4 linked regions of the Homo sapiens genome follow. The protein of the gene in region 1 purifies or fractionates together with the protein of each later gene. This does not show direct contact. Each region holds a gene or a part of one and is shown in the gene's direction. Other genes may lie near its edges.

Evidence for each region.
Region 2: the proteins of GPC4 (region 1) and SYT1 purify together in Homo sapiens (co-immunoprecipitation; one large-scale study listed by IntAct). This does not show direct contact.
Region 3: the proteins of GPC4 (region 1) and CD36 purify together in Homo sapiens (affinity purification with western blotting; one study listed by BioGRID). This does not show direct contact.
Region 4: the proteins of GPC4 (region 1) and TCEANC2 purify together in Homo sapiens (co-immunoprecipitation; one large-scale study listed by IntAct). This does not show direct contact.

Annotation. Positions count from the first base shown.
Region 1 is NC_000023.11:133,408,229-133,413,409, reverse strand, and holds part of GPC4 (glypican-4 precursor), read left to right. Parts: intron 1-5,181. UniProt on the Homo sapiens protein: Cell surface proteoglycan that bears heparan sulfate. May be involved in the development of kidney tubules and of the central nervous system.
Region 2 is NC_000012.12:78,870,309-78,875,489, forward strand, and holds part of SYT1 (synaptotagmin-1), read left to right. Parts: intron 1-5,181. UniProt on the Homo sapiens protein: Calcium sensor that participates in triggering neurotransmitter release at the synapse. May have a regulatory role in the membrane interactions during trafficking of synaptic vesicles at the active zone of the synapse.
Region 3 is NC_000007.14:80,644,292-80,649,472, forward strand, and holds part of CD36 (platelet glycoprotein 4), read left to right. Parts: intron 1-1,796; 5' UTR 1,797-1,890; intron 1,891-1,957; exon of another isoform or gene 1,958-2,068; intron 2,069-2,154; exon of another isoform or gene 2,155-2,360; 5' UTR 2,361-2,449; coding exon 2,450-2,569; intron 2,570-5,181.
Region 4 is NC_000001.11:54,060,108-54,063,607, forward strand, and holds part of TCEANC2 (transcription elongation factor A N-terminal and central domain-containing protein 2), read left to right. Parts: intron 1-3,500.

The DNA of each region.
Region 1 (5,181 bases):
TACAAAGGTAATTGAGGGAAGTTGCTGGGCACTTTTGGAGTGTAACTGGCGTCTGTCTAGAAATAGAAGCGAAGAAATTGTTGGAGCAGCCCAGGCGCCCACTGCACCTTGGCAGTTACCAAATAACATGCTCACTACTGATTAGACACTGTTTGCCCTTCAGCTGCCTGTCTTTTGGGGAGCTCAAGTATGTCCTCAAAGCGGCACGATTTTATTGGTTGTAGAGCCCTGAAAAGCCCTCTTTCTTTCCCTTCCTCCTGCCCCGCCAGAAAAAAAATGAAGTGAACCACCAGCCGCTGAAGCTTGGGGACTCTGCAGGTCAAACCTGGGGTCTTTGTGCCCTGCACAGTTTAGGCCTGGGCACAGCGGAGATGATTGGCGTGAAGGTTACAGTTGTCATTCCCACATTTTGAAGGGGTAGATGCAGCTCTGCACTTAATGGGAATGTGACAAGGTTTCATCTTCTGCTCATGCAAACAATATGTGCCTTTGATATTGACTGCAGGCATTCAGCGAGTGGGGTTGTGAAACTGCCCTCCCCAGTTTCCCCAACTTTGCTCTGTGCAGTCTTTCGCTGTGGCAGGGCATCTTCCCCAGCCAGCATCTCAGGAAAAAGGAAGCTTGAAGGGTGCTCAGAGACTCTGTGCTAGGTGTTCCCTTTGATTGTCATCATCCCCAGAAATCACCTGAGGGATATTTTGCGTATATGTCTATCTGGACATTCCCCCATGCCAAAGATAGGGGAGTTATTAGTGACCAGCAGCAGGAAATGGAAGCTAATGTGCTCACACCCAAAACATTTTATTCTTTTTGTCTTGTCCTTCATCTCCCTCCCTGGGCTGCTGCTTTTATTTCCCCTTTTGAATGACCTACTGGACTGCATTCTCCTGAGGAACAAAGGAAGTGCCTTTTTAGCTGGAATCCTTGGAAGACCACCAAGGACTTTAGCTCATGCAGTGCAATTTCGCACCACTTTCAACAATAACAAAAATGCATGACTGAATGGCTCAAAAATGTGGAGTGTTAGAGGCATTCATTTGAGTCTAGGACACTGTCACAACACAGACAGACCCAAGTAAATACCTTTAGACGGCCAGTATAGAAACAGGCGTAATCTTTACCATCACCCTGGCCTCTCCAGATGCATACATTAGCCTTGTCTTCTCTGAGCTACACTCAGATAATTTTGGTCATTTTTTAAGGGGGATAGTCAATATAGTGACTTGTATTCAGCCTAGGTCTGGATGGATTAATTGCCAGGCACTTTGCCTGGGATGGGGAATGTGCTTTTTTCAGTGCAAAACACCCAGGATCATTTTCCAGGTGAAGTATCACAAAGTCTGGGTACCTAGCTCATTGAGCCCCAGGCTCAGCCCAAGTTTAATGTTTTATTCCAGATGGCCTTGCACTTGCCTTCTAGAGGTTTGAACAGGCTTTAAGAATACTCCATGTTCTGGAGGAGTCTCAGTCTTTATAGATCATAGTTAGGATCATCTGATGTGCTCTCAAGGGTGTCAGGGAGTACATCATGCTGACAGGGCTTCCAACTGAGGTCCTGCATTGCCTGTCTGCTTGACCCCTGTACTTTTCAAATAATGCTGAGTCCAGGTGCCATGATCAAAAGGGATCTTTAACACAAAGATTATGTTTTTGTTCAGCTTTCAATGGCCATGTACTTTTGGAGCGCCCACTATGTGCAGTATCCTCTGCTCAGCATTGTGGAGACAGCAAGAAAGGCAGGAGGGGCTTCTGCCACCAGGACCTTTCCTATTAGTAAGGAGATAAGCCACGCACACACAAAATTAGAATACAACACAGTGGTGATAAGTGCCATACAAGCGATACAGATGACGAGAAGGGAGTGCCCAGGCATTTCAAAGAGAGAAGGGATTTAGGACTCTAATACTATAGAATATTAACTGGGTAAAGCTAGTTCACTAGTAAAAATGAAAATACTAATGAAGATAAGTTTAAAAATCTAACCATTTTCATTATGCCTCCCTCCATAAAGACAAAGGTAAAGGGTATGCAACAATGGGCATTTTATTACTCATCTATGTTGAAATTGTTTTTAAGAGTGAGGCAGTGGGTTAGAAGCATTCATGAACTTGCCAAAGGTCCTCTTCACAATGACATTGAATGATACTCAGAACTTTGTGCCCTAGTTGCAGTTTTGGAGTTTTTATTTCTTGTTCCCTTCTGTGTTCATGAGCAATGCACCTATGATCATGTGCTCACACACACATACATATGTACATGCACAAAGGATTCCAGGACTCCTATAAGCTGTTATGACTACGTGGAAAAAAAGTACGTGTGTATGTGTGTTGGAGAGGTAGCAATACTTTCTAATAGTGAGTTGATTATATATGACACACAGCATGTGTCTTTAAGATTTGTATTCCGCCTTCCCCACCGTAAGTAATGTGTTGGATTTTGCAATGAATCTGTGATCTCCTGTTTTGTTGGAATCATCAATTTGGCTCTGTGTTTCACTTGGGGAGGGTCGAATTGAGCCACAGGGCCTATCACTGTAGAAATTGTCCCAAGTAGTTTACAGGAGGTATCTTCTGGACATGTTCAAAAAAGAATTTAGTTAAAGTTCTGGCTTATGCAGCTCAGTCTCTGGTTAGAACATATAAATATAAAATGTCTGATTCAGCATAATTACTGTTTTCCTTTTTTATTTGATTCACGTTGGGTTGCATGCAATTTCAGGATTAACTGGAGACTAGACTGAGGAATGAAAAAGGAAGTTTTTTGTTATGTGTACAAGGGAAACAACATTGGCGTTAATCTGAGGCAGTTGGAAGTGAGTCTCTCTGGCTCCCCAATGACATTAACTGTTTTAGCACTGAGGTTTTTTTCTTATTTATGTTTTTAAAAATGTATTTTGGCCTCATGATAAGAGTTCGTAGCTATTGAATGCTTTCTCTGGGCCTGGCCCTATACCAAGGAACTTACATGATTGTCTCATTTAAAACCCACAACAACCATATGACATCAGAATTATCATCTCCATTTTATAGACAAGAAAACAAATTCAAAGGGATTATGAAATATGTTCACAATCTTATAGCTAATGAATAACAGAGGTGGGATTTGAACCCAGGTCTTATCTGTTCTAGAGTATAGTTCATGCTATGTTGTACAGATAGTAAGACAAGAAAGTACCTTCTCTATTCCCATAGAGGTTGTTGAGATATAAAGTATGGGAGGACCCTCAGCTAACTAGTAACAGACCATCATCAAAACGGCACAATTTTCGTGTTATAGTGGAGAGGATCCAGTCACATCTTTTGTAGACAAAATGTCAAACCCAGACATAGACAATCTAGTGTTAATGGTAGAAGGAATATAAATTGTATTTCCTGGACAATACAATTGAGCCAATGAGGGTTTCTGAGGGAGGGGAATGTCGTCAGTCAAGCTGTTTTAGGAAGATAACTAGTGGCTCTTTGGGTTAAGGGTTGGCGAGGCAAGAGATAAAGACAGGGAGGTCTGTCAGCAGACTCTTTTTAAATAGTTCTTAACTGGTCTACCTGCCTCTTGTCTGTCCCCCCCTCCTAAATCCCTGTTCTATCCTGAACATCGCCAGCTTAATTTCCTTACATCACTGCTTTGATTAGAGTTATTCCTGTGCTTTGAGCTTCAGTGGCTCCAAGCATCTCAAATGATACTTCTTTCATTGAGTCACTTCTGAACTCTCCAGGGTTATGTGCCCACTTCTTCCTAATTCCCTGTTGGAACCAGTCCATGGTCTTTGTACATAACTGCCTTGTATTATAGTTAACTGTGTGTGCAGGTACGTGTTTGTCTTCTCAACTGGAAGCAACTTGAGGGCAAAGATGACAACTCCTCGTCTTGTCTGTGGGTAGCAGTACCAAGTGTGGTAGGTCAGTGCAATATTTGTTAAACAAGTGGGAGAATAACATAGCCAATTCTATTGTGTTCTCTGTCAGACACTAGTGCTACAATGAGATTATACTGCCTTGATGATAGATTGTCATTCCATGGTCTGTTGATCTCCTAGGAATCTTTTGGATCTAAACACTTTTTTTTTTTTTTTTTTTTTTTTTTTTTTTTTTTAAGGCAGGGTCTCACTGTTGCCCAGACTGGAGTGCAGTGGCGTGATCTTGCCTCATCGCAACCTCTGCCTCCCAGGCTCAAGCAATTCTCCTGCCTCAGCCTCCAGAGTAGCTGGGATTATAGGCATGAGCCACTACCGCCTGGCTAATTTTTTTTTTTTTTTTCCAAGATGAAGTTTCGCTCTGTTGCCCAGGCTGGATTGCAGTCGCGTGATCTCGGCTCACTGCAATCTCCACCTCCTGGGTTCAAAGGATTCTCTTGCCTCAGCCTCCCGAGTAGCTGGGATTATAGGCGTGTGCCACCATACCCGGCTAATTTTTGTATTTTTAGTAGAGACGTGGTTTCACCATGTTGGCCAGGCTGGTCTAGAACTCCTGACCTCAAATGATCCAGCCTCCCAAAGTGCTGGAATTACAGGCATGAACCACCATTCCAGGCCTGTATCTAAACACTTTGAAGTGAAATAAATTTAAAGTAAATATGCATATGTTGGTATAGCTTGGAGAACGTTTTTATTCTTTTGGGGGAGTACTTGTCTTTACCACTTCATTAATAACTGAATGCTTATAGGATTTTTTTTTATTTTTTGAAACAGAGTTTCGCTCTTGTTGCCCAGGCTGGAGTGCAATGGCACGATCTCAGCTCTCCGCAACCTCCGCCTCTGGTTCAAGCCATTCTCCTGCCTCAGCCTCCAGAGTAGCTGGGATTACAGGCATGCACCACCATGCCCGGCTAATTTTGTATTTTTAGTAGAGATGGAGTTTTTCCATGTTAGTCAGGCTGGTCTTGAACTCCTGACCTCAGGTGATCCACCTCGGCCTCCCAAAGTGCTGGGATTACAGGCATGAGCTACTGCACTGGCCAGGAATTTTTCAGAAAGATTCAGAATTGTTTTTCTTAATGCCTTGAGATACACTTCTTTAAAGAATGAACAGTTGAGACTGTTGTGATTAGGCAATTTAGAGCAAATTTACCACATGCAACTGTTCAGTGTGCATCAGTTACCTTTTAACATAAAAAAACTCAAGTTTATTGTCTTTACCAAGAAGAACACAAGCTTTGAAGGGTATCAGAATATTTTATATAAATAAA
Region 2 (5,181 bases), on another chromosome or scaffold:
TATGGTACTGAAACTTGGTCATATCTTACCTCAAAGAACCTATTTCTGTACTTGTGAAATATAGCTTTATTAATAATTTTAAAGTGCTTAGAGTTCCGATATTTTTTTATCAAAGGGTATTATATAAGTAAAAGTAATTGTGTCTTATTTCCTGTGATAGATAAATGTTTTCTTTCTCTTTTGAAATCAAAGATAAAATGCACATATGCACTCAAATGCAAACATATTTGAAGAGTTTGAAATGTAAACATTCTTATTTTGCAATTGCTTACATGAGAAGTATATAGTCTCCTGTCCTCTTCCATCATGCTCCCTGACAGCAGCCATCATTTCAGTCCCTTGAGAATAGAAAGGAAAGCAGACAAACCACCTGAAAACTCTGGTGAAAGTTCTCATGATGTGGCCTCCAGGGAACAGCCTCTTGTTTTACTTGAGGCTCATTTCCGCTGGGCCATCCTCCTTGCATGTCACTCCATGCCTACTGTGGGTAGGAAACAGGTACTTGGATTGACTGATTGCTGCTTTGAGATTCCTTGACATATTTTTTCATCAACATGAAGGCAAAAGGACATGAATACTCAGTCAAAACATGCAGAGCTGTACTTACGTGAACACTTTTAAAATGCGATACTGAATCTTATATAATTTTAGGATAATTTATGAAAAAGCTTTTCTTTCTTGGAATTTCTTTTGTTTACTCACAAGTGATCCAAGCAAAAGATGAAGCTGTTAAACCATGAGTCAGTATAGTATTTTTTTAACTTAACACCTGAGAATAAAGCTGAAAGGATTGTTTAAAAAGTGTTTCAAATCATACTTTCAAAATCCATCTGTGTCTGGAGACCCTTAAATAAGCACATGCTTCATGGTCATTATCCCAGATAACTGACAATTTGTTTTTCTACAAAATCTCTGGATATTATGAAACATCACACACGAGCTTGCTTTTAGGATAGATTATTAATAATGTATTTTTCAGACACAATTGTATGTGAGAGTTTCTGCAAGTATAAACAATAAGATAACATTACAGCAGCAGGCAACACTCACTAAAATATCAATTTTGAATTGTCTGCTCTCTCTTTGAGAAGGAGAAAGAGCTAACTGAGTATCTTTTTCCCTCATGATGTACTTACTGGTCTCCAATATCCTATGCCATACAAACAGTGGACATGGTCCTTGCTTAGCTCCTATGAAATACGGAAACTGCCTACCTGCTTATTTTTGAGGGAAAAAAAACTTTTCTAGAAAGATTTTTAGACAAATGATTTATTGGCCTTTGAAGCAAGGACAAGTGCTATAACAACTCATTAAGGGACAGTTGAGCTCTAGCAATCAGGTTTTGAGTTATCAAGATTATTAGGAAGAAAAGTTGACACAGTTTCTCAGGAAAAAGACAAGGAAGCAAAGCATTGAAATCTGTTTCTGACTTGGAGTGTCTGCCAGATCCTAGTTTACAAGGCTGGCTTTCTGCCTAATCCCTAGCATTTTCATCAGATTTGAAGACTGAATAAAGTGAACTATTGGGCATTAGAGCATATTTCTAGAGCACCGAGACCTCTTCTATAAATAGCATAACATCACTCTTCTATTTTAACCAATGTTCAGAATCCGAGGCCACAAGTTTTTATATTTAAATATGTATAAACCAGATCATTCTATGCCTGAAAGTACTAGGGTTTTATCTGTCTGTGTACAGGAAATTCTTCTGTTAAAAGCTTAGTTAACAATATGACATTACAAATAATGTACCTATTTTTAGTGGTTTTATTAAATTATAATGTTAAATTTAAAAAGCCAAGCATTCACCTTGAGCTACATCTGAGCCTGATAATTCAAAAAGTGACATTTCAGTACAAAGCCAACATACCCTTAAATTGACAAAACTGCCCTGCTTTTAAATTGTTTTGTAAAAAAGTACTTGATATGCAAGTTTCCAACGACTTGTTTTTTTTCTGGAGAATCTTAGATACTTTCTGAACCACTCTTAGACAACACAGAATGAATATTAATGACAGGAGAGAGCTGACTCCTTCAGGCAAAAGTGGATGAGACAAGTTCTTTTATGCCTTTGAGAATCTGTTTCATCATTTATATATTGAACACATAGCAACAGTTTTATTTCTCTTGATTTCTGGACTTTTAGACCTGTATGCATCGAAGCATATTACACCTCACAGCCTGAATAGGAAAGATTTGTTCAGTTCTCTGGTTATAAGAATGATATAGGAATTCCTTTGTGTTCTCTTCCTTTCTGTACATTTTATTCCTTTCTCATGTCTTCTCTTCCTACTCTGCCCTTCTTCCTTCTTTTCTTCATTCTTTTGTCTTTCCTTTCTTTTTTTGTATCTTAATTAAATATTTTCCTATAGAATCACTAAATGAAGGTTTAGTACTTTTGACCCATAGTAATCTTCACCAGCTGAATTAATTTGTGTCAACAACTAAGAAATGTAATTCTTAGTTTGTATACATTTTAGGTTAGCTTCACAAAATATATGTATAGATAAATAAAGGAGCAGCCTTTTAATTTGTTTATGTAATTGGCACACTTAAATGGAATGTGTCATCATATGAATGTTTTTAAAATTTTGCATGTAAAGGGCTTGCGGATAATTTTTAAACCGTAACTTTTTGCAGAGAGACAGAATAATGTTTTAGAGTCCAAAAAACTGGCATGTACTATTTGGCATGTTTTTCTTTATTTTCTATTTTGCCATTGCAATGGTAACAAGTTACTGTGTTCATGACAGGCGTGCAGCACTGTATTTTTATTTGTTTATTTATTTTATTGCCTTGTTTGATGTTGATAATGAAGAGGTTCTCTCTCTTAAAGATGCAATGAAGGAGACTCAAGTGTTGTTACTTGCCTGCAATTACACATTTAGAAAGCCTCTTATATTTTTTGTCTGTTGGAACTTACTGCCTCAGCACTTAATAAAGCAGGAAAAAGCATGTTTTGTAATTCTCTTACTATGTAAGAACTAGTTTGCTTTTGCTTATCTAACATCATTATTGAGTATAAGATACATAGTCTTTATTTATCCCACTGAAAAAATAAGAAAGATTTGATATACCATTATTTCTTCTGTGACTCTAATTGCAAAATAAATTGAGTTTGTGTTTTAAAATTATTCAAGGGACATTTTTGTAATCTACAAGAAAAGTCACTAAGCTTGAGTCACTAGGCTAAGTTGGCCTTTAGTCATTGCTATATCACTGTGATGTTAGATAAGTCACCTTATTTGTTTTCTTATTTGTAAACTCCATAGTTCCAAGCCACCAAGTAGGGTGCAATGAGAAGTGATTGTAATCATAAGTGTTGTAGCTTTATCACTAACTCTCCAAACTTATCTCTTATTATTCTCCTCATTGATATTCATACACACCTTCTTGCTGTTCCTTCACATAACATTAGTGGAAGTTGTTGAATCTATTGATACTTTTTATCTTCTATTCCAAGGTAGAATGGTTAAACATTCTGCTCTAAGTGAACATATCCAAACCACAATTATTATTCAATTCAAATATGAAGTCTATCAGTTGGCAATTCTTTGTGTTAAGAAACACATTTGCGAGCAATAGCTAATAGCCATACCATTGCAATGTGGAATAATATAAGTGTGTTTGTAGCTAATCTGATTTAAGAAAACAGGAATTTTAGTTGGGAAGGGCCTATAGAAAGAATACAAAATTATATGAAACATAGGATAGGTATTAAGGGAGATATTTGAATGAATACAGGTATTCATATTGTTTCTTACAATATGTCAGGCACTTTTCTATGTACTTTCCATGCTTCATCCCATTTAATATTCTCAATAACTCCTTGGGATTTGTGCTAATTTGTTTATAATTTTTAAGTGAGAAAGTAGTGGAAAAAGAATAACTGAGCAACTTCCCAGGGTCACATTATGTAGTAAGATGTAGAATTAAACCCAAGCTACCTATTTACAGAGCCAATACTCAATCATAGGTAGTCACACAATCAATAAACTCATAAATGTCAGAAGAAGAGAATAGATGGTGGCAAAGAGGTAGAGGTACCCAAAAGAGATTAAATAGTGATAGGCAAATTGATCCACTTTATAGGTTAGGTCAATATGAGCATGATGGCAATAGGATAAAAGTATGAAACTTAGAGAGCTGGATTCAGATAGCCAACTCTGGAATGGTGAACTTCAATAAGATAGTTCCCCAGGAATGAAAATGCAATAATGTTTGCAAATTGTCTGGTGCCCTGTTACTATATGGTAGATTTGACCACCTTTGCTCCTCTTTCTCTTTTTTTATTTTCAGAAATTCTTTCACTTGTAAAAATGCCACCTGACTCAAAATGCTTAAGCAAGAAAAGGGATTTTGGTGCTCATGTGACCATAAAGTTCATGAATATTCTGGCTTCAGTCATAGGTGGAAATGGGAGCTCACACCATGTGGTCAGAACCAAGCCTATTCTCCTTCCTACCACTGTACCACTAGTACTCAATAATTTAACGACTGGTATGATTATACCAGTGTGAAAAGTCTACCTATAAGAGGATATTGGCTGAGTTGATTGTTATTTAATTCTAGTTATGTCCTTGCCTTACTCTGTTTGGCTTCCTCACTTTTTAATGCAGAAGGGTAGATAGTCTTTATTCATCTCATTGCAAAGATAAGAAGAAAGTCCTTTACAAGACTTGAAGAAATTAAGCTTAGTAGAACCAAGAACAGCAAATTGCAGAGCCACTTGCGTGTAAATGAGAATTTCAAACTTTTATTAGTTTTGTAAGGAAGGAGGGGTTATTTCAAGGAGTTTATAAAGTTTTAACCTACATATGCTACAGATTAAACGTTATCAATTTGTACAAATATATTATACATTTTTATCTTTGTTGTACTCTGAATTGAAGAGGAAATATTTGGGAATAATATATTTCTTCGGTAAGTATGATGATGTTCCTATTATATGCCAGGCACCATTTGGATGCTGGGGATACAGAAATAAAAATAGTAGACAGGTTTCCTGCATGTAGGAGCTTACATTCTAAGGAAGAAGAGAGACCATTAAAAACAACAACAAAACATTGCTATGGTACTTATATAATAAATACTATAAAATTGTAAAATAGGCTAATAAATAAAACAGAGCAATAGTGGGGAATGTGATCAACCAAAAGGAAAAGGAGCCAGCCCTGTAAC
Region 3 (5,181 bases), on another chromosome or scaffold:
ACAGAAAATTCCACAGGAAAAACAAATCACTTGTTTAGACTTATGTGCATTCCCTTTACATTGGAGAAAAATGACACTAAAGAACTAGTCAGTCTTCTTAATCACCAAGACCTTGATGTAAATGAAGTTTATTGCATCCTATGGTTTATACTGGAAAGTATCCTATGTATAAGGGAATAGGCAAAGGGGAATCCCAAAGGTTAAGGGAACATATGTAAATAATAAAATTGCCAAGAAAAATATTTGTAACATTTATTCCTACATTTTGGGGGAAAATATCATTTTCTTATTCTTTTCTTAGCTCTACAGGTAATATTTTTGAAAAACTATATGATTACTAAAGTGGAAGTAAATACTAATAAAATCATAAGAGTGGTACCTCTGTTGCAAGACAGCTGTGGAGGGAAAACCTGAAATTATAACAAACCACAATTATTAATACACTTACAACATTAACAACAATATTCTATGTGCCCTTTTTTGACTGTAGCCTTCATTCCGTTGGCACATATGTTTTCTTTGGCCATGAGCATTTCAAAGTAGAGAATAATTGTTTATAAACTATAAAGCGCATTCTGACTATAAATGACACGCCAACCCCATTATTGACAAAATGTCATTGCAACAACAAAGAAGTTCAAATAAATGTGTTTTCAAATACTAGTTAGAATTAACTCTGATTATTACAGTAGGATCCACTCATTTCACAAACTGTATTCTTTCTTCCAATCTTTTTTTTTTTTTTTGAGATGGAGTTTCACTCTTGTTGCCCAGGCTGGAGTGCAATGGCATGATCTCGGCTCACCGCAACCTCCGCCTCCTGGGTTCAAGCGATTCTCCTGCCTCAGCCTCCGGAGTAGCTGGGATTACAAGCATGTGCCACCAAGCCCGGCTAACTTTGTATGTTTAGTAGAGATGGGGTTTCTCTGTGTTGGTCGGGCTGGTCTCAAACTCCCAACCTCAGGTGATCCACCCGCCTCAGCCTTCCAAAGTGCTAGGATGACAGGTGTGAGCCACCACGCCCGGCTCTCCCAATCTTTATATAATAATCACATACTATGGCTGGGCATGGTGGCTCACGCCTGTCATCCCAGCACTTTGGGAGGCTGAGGTGGGTGGATCACGAGGTCAGGAGTTCGAGACCAGCCTGACCAACATGGTGAAACCCCATCTCTACTGAAAATACAAAAATTAACCAGGCATGGTGGCGTGCACCTGTAATCCCAGCTACACAGGAGGCTGAGTCAGGAGAATTGCTTGAACCCAGGAGGCAGAGGTTGCAGTGAGCCGAGATCGTGCCACTGCACTCCAGCCTGGGTGACAGAGAAAGACTCCGTCTCAAAAAATAATAATAATCACATACTTTATGAAGACACCAAACATTAGATTGACAAATATATACTAACACAAACTACCTAATTTTAACAGAATTAGCATGAATCAACTGCAAATGACAAACTATATTGTAGTTGAATGTGTAGGGAAAAAATTCTTCAGTAAGAGAGCAATGCCATGGTTGAAACAAGACATCCTCTACATTTTATATTTGCTTCAAATTCTTTATACCTGTAGTCTATCCAAAGTCATCAATAAAACTGAAAGTAAGATACTCTTATTTTAAAAATTCCATGTTTTAAACAGTTTTTAGGACAAGCCATTCAGGCCTGAACTCAGTATTCATGAAAATTAGACTTTCTTTTAACAGTTATTTTAAGTATGGTGATATTAGAGAGTGTCCCAGTATAAAATTTCTGAGAATTTTTTTCTATTTACCCATGCTTTTCTTATTTTCACAGATAGCTTTCCAATGATTAGACGAATTGATTCTTTCTGTGACTCATCAGTTCATTTCCTGTAAAATTCATGTCTTGCTGTTGATTTGTGAATAAGGTATCGTAAATAAAACATCTGTTACCATACTTGCTTATCATTTAATGGAAAACACATCAGTCAACCCACATTCTGTTCGCAGGAGAGCTCCAGAAGGGGTGTGGAAGGTTGTGTTGGGTGGAGAAACCAGATAGTGAGGATGCAACTAAGTTGCTGAGACAAGGGAAGAGAGATGAGGGTGAGAGTTCTCCTTAGATAAGATTTCAATATGTTAATCATGTGTAGAAAGAAAATTAAAAAGGAGGAATATGAAGAAATTCAGATATGACATTATTAGTTCTGCCACTGGTAGGCATTAGAAGCAAGAAAAGGGAGACGGACCGAGGAAGCCACTTTGGTGAAACAAAAAGAAAAGCATTTGTTTATTTAGAACGGGCAAAATGATACGTTTCAGTGGGTGTTTTCTTTGTACTTTGATCTTTTTGTACTGATATTTAAGCTTCTGTTTTATGATCTCTTTCTAATGATAGAACCAGAGCTTGTAGAAACCACTTTAATCATATCCAGGAGTTTGCAAGAAACAGGTGCTTAACACTAATTCACCTCCTGAACAAGAAAAATGGGCTGTGACCGGAACTGTGGGCTCATCGCTGGGGCTGTCATTGGTGCTGTCCTGGCTGTGTTTGGAGGTATTCTAATGCCAGTTGGAGACCTGCTTATCCAGAAGACAATTAAAAAGGTACAAGTAGTCCAAAGAATATGCCTTCTCATTTTGATTGATTCTAACTTCTCTTTTTTTGCTTTGTATTTACCTGCTTTATATTTCATGGTAACTGCTAATTTTGTATCTTTGACATAAAGGTAATTATGAACCACTGCAACTCTATATGATGCGACTTTATGTGAAATGTTATAAGTATAATGTATATTTAACATGACTCCATTGCTGTCTTAAATATAAATACCAAATTCTATTAAAAGCTGTCTACAGGTATGCATGTTAGTAGAAATAATTGTTTTAAGTTATGTCCAAAGAGCATGTTGGCATGCTTTTGAGTAGGAAATAAGTGAGTATATTTTGTAAAAGCACATTTATAAAAGAAGTTGCACTTTAGTTAATACTGAGAAAAGTAAAACTGTGTGTGTGTGTGTGTGTGTGTGTAATGTGTTTAATATTGAAACATAAATCCTTATTAAATTGTAGGTAAACTTGTTTGGTAATACACTGTTTAGTAATCCACTATTTTTATATATGTGTAATAATCTCATCTCATAAATATTTTCTATTTGTGAAGCTTCATATTGGAATCTTAGAAAATACTTTCAGAAATATGCAGAACATGTCTTAGTATAAAACAAATTGACTGTAGTGTGAAAAAACAGAATGATTGAATAGATGGGCTTTGCACAACAACCTAGAATTCATCTCCCACCCTAGCTTATTCGAATTAGCTACACACTCACTCATCAGAAACGTTGATTGATAGGGGGAAGAAGAGAATAAAGGGAAGCAGTTCTGCTGAAGTTCTAAATCAGGGATGGCAAATTCAAATGGCTGCAGGAGTTTGGATACAGGGGTTAAACAAAATTTAAGGTGCCAAGAACAAGATAAAATGAAGAACAGGAACTGCTGTGAACTAGACTGTGTGTTTACTGCCTGAAGGCATAAATGTTCATTTTATTAAACATAATACTGGCCAAATAAAACGAGTTCTGCCTTCAACTCTCTACCTGGTTAGGATGGCAATGACCTAGACAAAGGGTTAGTAAGCATAGTGCACGATGGAGAACAGGAGGAATTGAATTTTTATTAAATTTTTATTGCTATATTGTTAGTATTTTTAATATTTTTGATCCACAGTTGGTTGAATCTGCAGATGTGGAACCCATGAATACAGAGGGCTGACTGTATTGTGTTTATTGCTAACATATTGCAGAACTTCAGCCTCATGCATTTAACTGAAAAAACATATGTAAATTAGTATCCCCTGCCTTGGAATTCTTAGTTTTCTTGATAGTATTTTTAATACAGGCCAATGGAAACAGACAGGTAATAGTGAGGTGTGGGGCTTATCTAATAGTGGGATGGAGTGGCCATTGATCTGACATCCTTCCTACTCATAAACTATGTTCTCACCCAGATCTTATGCAGAGAAAGTACAAGATCAGTGTCTGTGTTAACGTACAGACTACAACATCATTTGGAAAAGTTTTCCAAATTCAAAAATCACAATAATCTTCCAATGCACAGCGATTTAGACTACTTTTTTTTGCTGACACATAATTATTGGTCAATAACTGAGTATTGATGATTTAATTTTTTTCTTTGTCATGCAACAAAACTGGTACATGTAGATTCTTTTGAATAGCATGTGAGGTGCTAGCATTTATTTTAATTCTTTAATATTTATCTTTATGCTTATAATAGTTAACCATGAGAAAGTAAGTTTTCTGACATCAAAATGTGCTTTTGTATAATGACTAAGAGAATAATATAATCTCATCTATTGTAAGCTATAACCAGGGGAAGATATATTATAATAAAAAATACCGAGACCTATGAGACTCTAGAATTGAATTGGAAAAGTAAATGCTGTAATACTTTGAAAGAGAAATCTCTCAGAGTATTCAAGAAACTTCAGGAAAAAGGTAGGACTTGATTCAGATTTTAAAGAAGTGTAGAATTTTGAAAGTCTCAAATAACTGCAGTAACCATATTAAAGGACTGATTGATAGTATGAAAAACCCTGTGAAAATGCTACCAAATGCAGTGAAGATGGAAGGAAGAAGGTAGAGAATGTGCCCATAATACTGGATTAACAGCAGAAAAGATTAGAAGTTAACATGGGGTTAGAGTTAGGAAGCAAGCTTAGAACATCAGGCAGAAAAATACTTAATTGATGATACAATACACAATAGTCGTCGGTATGTTTTTCAGCAAGTGTAAGATATGATAAAACCTGAATTTAGAGATTAGATGGCTAACATTTAATTCTTACTAAGAGTTTCCTATATACTAGTTCACTTAATCTTCAAAAATATCTGTGAGAAGTTGCTGTTATTTTACTCATCTTACAGGCGCAAGTCCTTAAATCAACTTGCCAACTCACCTAGCCAATAGGGAAAGAAGTCATTCTCCAAATGTAAGCAATCTGTAGGAAGAGCCTAGATGAAAAACCTGGCCTTGTATACTACTCTACAGCAGAAAGGTTGCAAAGTGAGGATACCAGAGATAGGAAAACAAACAAACAAAAAACTGTAGGATATGACCACTTTCAAGGAGAATATAAGATTCCCTTTTAGAAAGATATTTGCATAATCTGCACATTATATAACAAAAGGCACACTGGT
Region 4 (3,500 bases), on another chromosome or scaffold:
TTACCAAAAAAAATTAGCAGCCAGGCGCAGTGGCTCACACCTGTAATCCCAGCACTTTGGGAGGCTGAGGCGGGTGGATCATGAGGTCAGGAGTTTGAGACCAGCCTGGCCAATATGGTGAAACCCTGTCTCTACTAAAAATAAAAAATTAGCTGGGCGTGGTCGCGCGCGCCTGTAGTCCCAGCTGCTTGGGAGGCTGAAGCAGAAGAATTGCTTGAACCTGGGAGGCGGAGGTTGCAGTGAGCTGAGATTGCGCCACTGCGCTCCAAGCTGGGCGACAGAGCGAGACTCCATCTCAAAAAAAAAAAAAAATTAGCCGGGCGTGGTGGCATGCGCCTATGGTCCTAGCCACTAGGGAGGCTGAGGTAGGAGGATTGCTTGAGCTCAGGAGGTTGAGGCTGTAGTGAGCTATGATCATACCACTGTACTCCAGCCTGGGCAACAGAGCAAGACCCTGTCTCAAAAATAAAATAAAATAATGAGGAAAAATTATATGTGATCCATTACAGAATTGTCATATAGACAATAAGGGCTAAGAGGTAAGAGAAGAGGCCTGGCGTGGTGGCTCACACCTGTAATCTCAGCATTTTGGGAGGCTGAGGTGGGCAGATCACCTGAGGTCAGGAGTTTGAGACCAGCCTGGCCAACATGGTGAAACCTCATCTCTACTAAAAATACAAAAATTAGCCGGGTGTGGTGGTGGGCGCCTGTAATCCTAGCTACTCGTGATTACAGGAGGCTGGGGAAGGAGAATCACTTGGACCCGGAAGGCAGAGGTTGCAGTGAGCCGAGATCATGCCACTGCACTCCAGCCTGGGTGACAGAGCGAGACTCTGTCTCAAACAAAAAAAAAAAGAGGTAAGAGAAGAGAGAGCTTAGTCCCTGTTTTAGTGCCCAAAGAAGGCTATGTGGCAGGGCACCATAAAGGGACAGGAGGATTTGACTAGGTCTGATATACTCTAGGGAAGTAGTGACATATAACCATTCAATGAGTGGTATGTGCTCTTCTGTTTCCTCTATGTATGCATGATGCTTGGTGTGTTCACAATGGCAAATTAAAAAGAAATTGAGTTAAATGTGAATGTTAGAATCAGCTAGGTCCACTTTCTGCCAAGTGACTTCCAAACATGAGCATTATGTTTTAATGCCAAGAACCTACTAAATGTTTAAGCCTCAGTTTCCTCATCAGTAACATCAGAAATAACAGTACCCCATCTGCATGATTATTATGAGAGTGAAATAAATAAATTCATATTGAAAGGGCTAACCATTGTGCCTGGTATGTAGTAAAAACCAATAGTTTCCTCTTTTCATGTATGGAAAAGGAGGGGCTTGTATAGTAAAACCAAAGCTGAGGAGGAGGAGGATGATAGTAGTAATAAGGATTACTACTAACATTTATTGAGTCCATTTTTATGGTCCAGGCATTGTGCTAACTAATGCTTTACATATATTAACTCTTTAAATCTTAATAATAGCTTTGTGATATGTATGCTTTTATCATTTATATTTTACAGATGAAAAACTAAGGCACAGAGAGATTAAGTAGCTTGCTTGAAGTCATGTAGCCATTAGTGGCAAAGTTGGGATTTGAACTAGATAATCTGGGTTCATAGTCTGTCCCCTATAGATAGGGTGAGCTGGAAAAAAAAAAAAGTGGAAGTTTCTGAATGCCAAACTGAAGAGGTATAAAAATCTTGGAATATTAGGACCATTGTACTTCTGTTATCAGTATATATTACAAGTAATTTTGCCATAGGTGTATCACATTCTATAAAAGTGATTCTCAATAGAGCTCATGTAATGTCCATTTAAGTGGTAAAGGTTAATTTGGTTAATCTCTTTTTACTCCCTTAAGAGGAAGTGATTTCTTCTGTTGGTTGCAATAAGAGAATTTTTTAAATTAAAAGGTCCTAGAGTATACTCATTCTTTTAGGTTCATCACTTCAGAAGGTTCTATGAACCTTTCCTGCCTTTGTAGGATCAACTAGCCAATATGTTGCCTCCTGCCCCCACCAGTGGAATGGTGCCCACGTAACTGCTTATGAGTGAATCATTTTCCCTAATTGGTTTTGTCAAACCTGACATTTCAGCAATCCACAACTGTAAAACCAGATGGTATATTGGAAAGCACATCTTCTTTCTGGCAATAACTATTCTACTCCTCATTGTAGTGTCCTTATTGATATTTTGTGTCCATTTCTCTTGTTCCTCCAAATAATTTGAGCAATCTATTTTCTGGCCCATAGTTAGAGATTGAGACATTTCTTGATATATATGGAATTCTTTTGCTCTTGAATAGACTGATGTTTTTCCTATTCCTGACCTAAAATTTCATATCTGAAAACTGTACTGTACTTAGTCCTTGAAGGTAGAAATAGTTTTGTTCAGTTACACCTACTGTGCACTGGGGATAGTGAGATAAATGAGAAATGGTTCCAGCCCTTAAGGGAAAGACAGCCTTGTCGATGGTAAGTATTTGCAGAAAGCATAGATGCAATAATAGGAGTCTATACAAGTTGCAGAGGGACGCAAAGTGGAGTATGGTAAAATGTGGTAAAGGAGAGGCAAGAAAGGCTTCATAGAAGACATGATGCTTGAAGAGAGTCTTAAAAAATGAATAAGTATTTATCAGGTAAATGAGGTAAAGAAAGAACATCCCAGGCAAAGGTATGAAATTCAAAAGGAAGCTGTAAATAGTTTGGCGTATCTGGAGCAAATGATGAGACTGAAAAGAATGTCAGGAGCCAAGTCATGGAAGGCCTTTTATGCCATGCTAAAGAGTTTGGACTTCTTTAGTTCCATATGTTGATATTATCTGATGTGGAACTCTTAACCTGATTCCAGCCATGCAGAAATGCTGGATTAAAAGTCTCCAATACAGAGCTGAGCTTGAAAGCAAGAAAGGGAAATCCTTAGGTGCCAGGAAGAGAGAGGAAAGCAAAATCAGAGCTGTAAATGGGAGCTGAAGCTAAATAGTTCCAGGGAACATTGAATCCAGATATAATGCTTAGGGGCTGGGATTTTAAGGCCAGTATGGATGGGAGATAAGACCTCGGGCTAATGTGATGTGGGGAGCTAGAATTGATCTCCTATGTGAAGCTGGAAGCCGAAACAGGACTACCATATGTTTGTGAGAAATGAGCTAGAAAAATTCCATCCACTGGTCCAGGGAAGCAGATTGTTACCTTCTCAGGGTCTTAGATGGAAAAAGAGTGGACAATAATAATAAATTAGAACCACACTCTTATTACCATGCATGAATATGTGTACAGTCATCTCTCAGTATCTGTAGGGGATTGGTTCCAGGACCCCCACTACAGGTGCCAAAATCCACTAATGCTCATGTCTGTTATATGGAGTGGTGTGCTATTTGCCTATACTCTATATAGATCTTCTTGTATAGTCTAAATCATTTCTAGATTACTATACAGGTTGAGCATCCTAATCTGAAATCAGAATGTCACAAAATCCAACACTTTTGAGTGCCAACATGGTAC